Regions from separate parts of the Homo sapiens genome. Here region 2 is linked to region 1. The links come from fine-mapping of genetic effects on gene expression. A gene starts in region 1. The other region holds a variant in brackets. All regions are shown on one strand. Distances are from middle to middle.

Region 1 (2,921 bases):
ATTGACAAGTTGATTCTTATTTCATATGGAAATGCACAGGGATTCAAGGTTGCAGTGACCCCTGTTTGCACCACTGCACTCCAGCCTGGGAGACAGAGTGAGACCTTGTCTCAAAAAAGAAATTAAAAAAAAAAAAAAAAAAGGAATGCAAAGAATCTCAAATAGCTAATATCTTCACAGTGAAAAACAAATTTGGAGAACTTAGTAGTACTTGATTTTGAGACTTAGTTGAAATCTAAAGTAACCTAGAGACAATGGTATTGTCAAAGTAGTAGGAAGTAGAATATAACAAGAGTCAGAAATAGACACATATACATTCAATGGACTTGGTTTTTTTACAAAGGTCCCAAGGCTATCCAATGCCAAAAGGAAAAGTTTTCAACAAACGGTGCTGAAACAATTAGAAATATGGAAAAAGTGAACCTGGACCCCCCATCTCACGCCACAACAAAATTATTTTGAGATAGTAATAGACCCAGAAGTAAAGGCTAAAAATATAAATCTAAAAGGAAACAATATTTTCATGACCTTGGGGTAGGCAAAGATTTATTAAAGAGGACACAAAAAACAACAAACAGAAGAAAAACCTGAAAATTGCATCAATATAAGTGTCTGCTCCTCAAAAGACACCTTTAAGAAAATGAAATGGTAAGCCACAGACTGGAAGAAGATATTTCGAATACATATATTTAACAATTTTGTATCCTGAATAAATAACTCCTGTAAATCCATAAACCAAAAAACTCCAAAGTCAGGCAAAAGATTGGAGCAGATGCTTCACAAAAGATATATGAATGACCCAGTAAGCACATGCAAATGTGCCCACCATTAATTATATGGGAAATTAAAATTAAAACCACAATAATATACCATTTCACACCGACCAAGATGGAAGTTAAAATTAAAAAAAAAAAAGAAAGGCTGACCAATGTGTCTATCTACTGGAGCTCTCCTACTGCGGGTGGGAATGTAAACTGGATGTAATCAGTCATTTTGGACAACAGGTGGCGGTTTCCTATAAAGCTAAACATAGACTTACCCTGGCACCCAGCCGACGTGGGAGAACTGGGTACACAGGTGTACACTTTACAAAACTCATCGAATTGCACACTCAGATTGTGTGCATTTTACTGTGTCTAAACGTTAGCGCTATAAAAGCAAAACAAAATATAAGATCATAAAAATAAAAGCAATTCCTAGGGGTCCTCTCCGTTCCCGGGCTTCCTCGGTGCGGAGGGAAACGAAACTAGCCCGAGGCAAAACAGCCTCCGCGAACCCCGCCCGCCGCTAGTTGCACTTTCGATTTTCCCTTTAGTTATTAAAGTTCCTATGCAGCTCCGCCTCGCGTCCGGCCTCATTTCCTCGGAAAATCCCTGCTTTCCCCGCTCGCCACGCCCTCCTCCTACCCGGCTTTAAAGCTAGTGAGGCACAGCCTGCGGGGAACGTAGCTAGCTGCAAGCAGAGGCCGGCATGACCACCGAGCAGCGACGCAGCCTGCAAGCCTTCCAGGATTATATCCGGAAGACCCTGGACCCTACCTACATCCTGAGCTACATGGCCCCCTGGTTTAGGGAGGGTGAGTGTCTCCAGCGGCGCCTTCTCGGCGGAAAACAATTGAGGACTTGTTTTTCTCTTGCTTCGTTCCCTTCTTTTAATCAATGCAGAGAGCCTGCCAGACTCCCCAGGTTTGTGGTAAGATCTCCGCAGCATTTTAGGCTAGAGGTTGCCAGAGTTTGAGGAGCCCTCGGAGGCCTAGGTGGGGAAACTGAGTTCCAGCGAGGTGAAGTGACTTGCTTAAGGGTGCTCATCTATTTAGGTTCAAAGCTGGGGAAGAAATTTTGTTTCATTTATTTTCACTAATATTAAAGTCTACTGTGTGCTTGGCTGGGTACTGACAGAGATTGAGAAATAAGATAAGGGCTCTTCCTTAGTATACATTACAGTCCAAGGGATGGGACACAAAGGGCAGATAATTACAGTACTGAGCACAAAGTGCGGTCTGAGCTTAAAGGAAGTTGATGCTTACTCTGCCGAATCTTATTTGCACGCCTAAAGAAGTGGAAGCTGGAGAGGAGCCGGACTTTTCCAGACCGAATAGCTTTAGGCTTTAATACAGGTGTTTCCATCTAACTTCGGAGACAGGTGATCCTGGGTAATGACCATTTTGTAAATTTGTATCGAATTACTTTGTGCTGGAGATGAGCAGAGGCTTCTGGGAAAGAGGTGAAAGGAGGTGGTACTTAAAAGATATCGATGAGGCCGGGCGTGGTCCCTCACGCTGTAATCCCAGCTGTAGAGCACCCGATGCTGTTGCTGTTCGGGGTGCCACTATGTAACCCGCACGGACCTAGGGGACTGAACAAAGAGGGGCGAACGCGGGAATAAAAGACAAGAGACAAAAGAGTATATCTGGAAGAAGGGGTCAGGGGGCACCTTGCCTCTAGTGGACAAGGGCCCTGAGCTTTACACAGCCCTTCTTATTAGGCAAAAGAGATAGCGAGAAGGGGAGGTGCTTGTTGGCTGGCTGCTTGATTCACAGCAGGCTTGCAAGACTGCATTCTTTGAACAATAGGTGCTAGATTTCTCAATAAATAATTTCAAGGAGCCTGGCGCCAGGGAGTGAGGCGCTCAGCAAACCATTTGGTGGCAAGGCAGTGTGAGTTTGCCCAGGTGCTGCATTCATGATAAACAGTTTGCTGTTTGATCATATAGCCTCCAGCGGAATGCTGAGTTGGTCACATCCCAAGGGCCTTCGGCTCCCTGCAGCCAGCACTTTGGGAGGCCTAGGCGGGTGGATCACAAGGTCAGGAGTTCGAGACCAGCTTGGCCAATATGGTGAAACCCCGTCTCTACCGAAAAATACAAAATTAGCCAGGCGTAGTGGTGCACTCCTGTAGTCCCAGCTACTCAGGAGGCTGAGG
Region 2 (2,921 bases), 70 kb after region 1:
TTGTGGGGTTTTCTTTTTTTTTTTTTTAAATCACAATTATGTACTGGTTCTAACGTTCTCTTTTGTGTGTTATTCCATCCCTTCATCTGTAGGAATGCCATTACACTGTGCTTGGAGATGCTTTTAAGGAATGCTTTGTGAGTAGACCACATCCCAAGCCAAAGCAGTTTTCAAGTTTTGAAAAAAGAGCAAAGATATTCTGTGCCCGACAGAACTGCAGCCATGACTGGGGAATCCATGTGAAGTACAAGACATTTGAGATTCCAGTTATAAAAATTGAAAGTTTTGTGGTGGAGGATATTGCAACTGGAGTTCAGACACTGTACTCGAAGTGGAAGGACTTTCATTTTGAGAAGATACCATTTGATCCAGCAGAAATGTCCAAATGATATCAGGTCCTCAATCTTCAGCTACAGGGAATGAGTAACTTTGAGTGGAGAAGAAACAAACATAGTGGGTATAATCATGGATCGCTTGTACCCCTGTGAAAATATATTTTTTAAAAATATCTTTAGCAGTTTGTACTATATTATATATGCAAAGCACAAATGAGTGAATCACAGCACTGAGTATTTTGTAGGCCAACAGAGCTCATAGTACTTGGGAAAAATTAAAAAGCCTCATTTCTAGCCTTCTTTTTAGAGTCAACTGCCAACAAACACACAGTAATCACTCTGTACACACTGGGATAGATGAATGAATGGAATGTTGGGAATTTTTATCTCCCTTTGTCTCCTTAACCTACTGTAAACTGGCTTTTGCCCTTAACAATCTACTGAAATTGTTCTTTTGAAGGTTACCAGTGACTCTGGTTGCCAAATCCACTGGGCACTTCTTAACCTTCTATTTGACCTCTGCGCATTTGGCCCTGTTGAGCACTCTTCTTGAAGCTCTCCCTGGGCTTCTCTCTCTTCTAGTTCTATTCTAGTCTTTTTTTATTGAGTCCTCCTCTTTGCTGATCCCTTCCAAGGGTTCAATATATATACATGTATATACTGTACATATGTATATGTAACTAATATACATACATACAGGTATGTATATGTAATGGTTATATGTACTCATGTTCCTGGTGTAGCAACGTGTGGTATGGCTACACAGAGAACATGAGAACATAAAGCCATTTTTATGCTTACTACTAAAAGCTGTCCACTGTAGAGTTGCTGTATGTAGCAATGTGTATCCACTCTACAGTGGTCAGCTTTTAGTAGAGAGCATAAAAATGATAAAATACTTCTTGAAAACTTAGTTTACTATACATCTTGCCCTATTAATATGTTCTCTTAACGTGTGCCATTGTTCTCTTTGACCATTTTCCTATAATGATGTTGATGTTCAACACCTGGACTGAATGTCTGTTCTCAGATCCCTTGGATGTTACAGATGAGGCAGTCTGACTGTCCTTTCTACTTGAAAGATTAGAATATGTATCCAAATGGCATTCACGTGTCACTTAGCAAGGTTTGCTGATGCTTCAAAGAGCTTAGTTTG[C/T]GGTTTCCTGGACGTGGAAACAAGTATCTGAGTTCCCTGGAGATCAACGGGATGAGGTGTTACAGCTGCCTCCCTCTTCATGCAATCTGGTGAGCAGTGGTGCAGGCGGGGAGCCAGAGAAACTTGCCAGTTATATAACTTCTCTTTGGCTTTTCTTCATCTGTAAAACAAGGATAATACTGAACTGTAAGGGTTAGTGGAGAGTTTTTAATTAAAAGAATGTGTGAAAAGTACATGACACAGTAGTTGCTTGATAATAGTTACTAGTAGTAGTATTCTTACTAAGACCCAATACAAATGGATTATTTAAACCAAGTTTATGAGTTGGTTTTTTTTCATTTTCTATTTGTATTTTATTAAGAGTGTCTTTTCTTATGTGATTTTTTTTAATTGCTATTTGATATGGTTTGGCTATATGTCCCCACCCAAATCTCATCTTGAATTATAATCCCCATGTGTCAAGGGAGGGACCTGACGGGAGGTGATTGGATCACGGGGGCAGTTGTCCCCATGCTGTTCTTGGGATAGTGAGTTAGTTCTCATGAGATCTGATGGTTTTATAAGTGTTTGACAATTCCTCCTTTACACACACTCTCTCTCTCATCTGCTGCCATGTAAGACTTGCCTGCTTCCCCTTCTGCCATGATTGTAAGTTTCCTGAGGCCTCCTCAGCCATGTGGAACTGTGAATCTATTAAGCCTCTTTTCTTTATAAATGACCCAGTCTCAGGCAGTTCTTTATAGCAGTGTGAAAACAGACTAATACACTATTGTTTAAGAACTCCAATAGGATGTGTAAAACATCTACTAGAAATAGATTTAATAAGATAAAAGTTATTATTATTATTTTTTTTTCTGAGATGGAGTCTCACTCTGTTGCCCAGGTTGGAGTGTAGTGGTGTGATCTCGGCTCACTGCAACCTCTGCCTTCTAGGTTCAAGTGATTCTCCTGCCTCAGCCTCCCACATAGCTGGGTACAGGCACCCACCACCACACCCGGCTAAATTTTTTTATTTTTAGTAGAGTCGGGGTTTCACCATGTTGGCCAGGCTGGTCTTGAACTCCTGACCTCAAGTGATCCACTTGCCTCGGCCTCCCACAGTGTTGGGATTACAGGCGTGAGTCACCATGCCTGGCCAAGAAAAGTTCTTTTAAGTATGTAAATGATTCAATTTGGATGAAGGTGAATAGCCCTATTCAGCCAACTGAGGCAGGCAGACTGAAGTGAAAATAAATAAGGAGAACTTAGCATTTCCTTGTTTGACTTTTAATGGAATAATGTCATTGCCAGGCATGGACTCAAACAAAGTAGGCACTTGGTTAATATGTATTGAATGAAAGAAATGAGCAGGTAGGCTTTTAGGAAGTGGATCTTTTGACTGACTCCCAAATGCTGGTCATTGCATTTCTAGAACAAAGGCCACATTTTAG

Evidence for each region. PIP is the estimated chance that this variant, and not a neighbour inherited with it, causes the effect.
Region 2: its variant is fine-mapped to the expression of RIGI in whole blood (TOPMed, PIP above 0.99).

The regions. Positions count from the first base shown.
Region 1 is chr9:32,524,716-32,527,636 of GRCh38, reverse strand. RIGI (RNA sensor RIG-I) reads left to right here and starts at 1,441. Exons shown (of 18, transcript NM_014314.4): 1 at 1,441-1,576. The coding sequence starts at 1,471. RefSeq lists an enhancer at 1,291-1,540.
Region 2 is chr9:32,454,590-32,457,510 of GRCh38, reverse strand. ACO1 (aconitase 1) reads right to left here. Exons shown (of 21, transcript NM_002197.3): 21 at 2,742-2,921. RIGI (RNA sensor RIG-I) reads left to right here. Exons shown (of 18, transcript NM_014314.4): 18 at 93-2,209. The coding sequence ends at 389. Among named protein-coding and RNA genes, the nearest start is that of RIGI, 70 kb to the left of the region's middle. The variant C/T (reference allele first, on the strand shown) is at 1,492.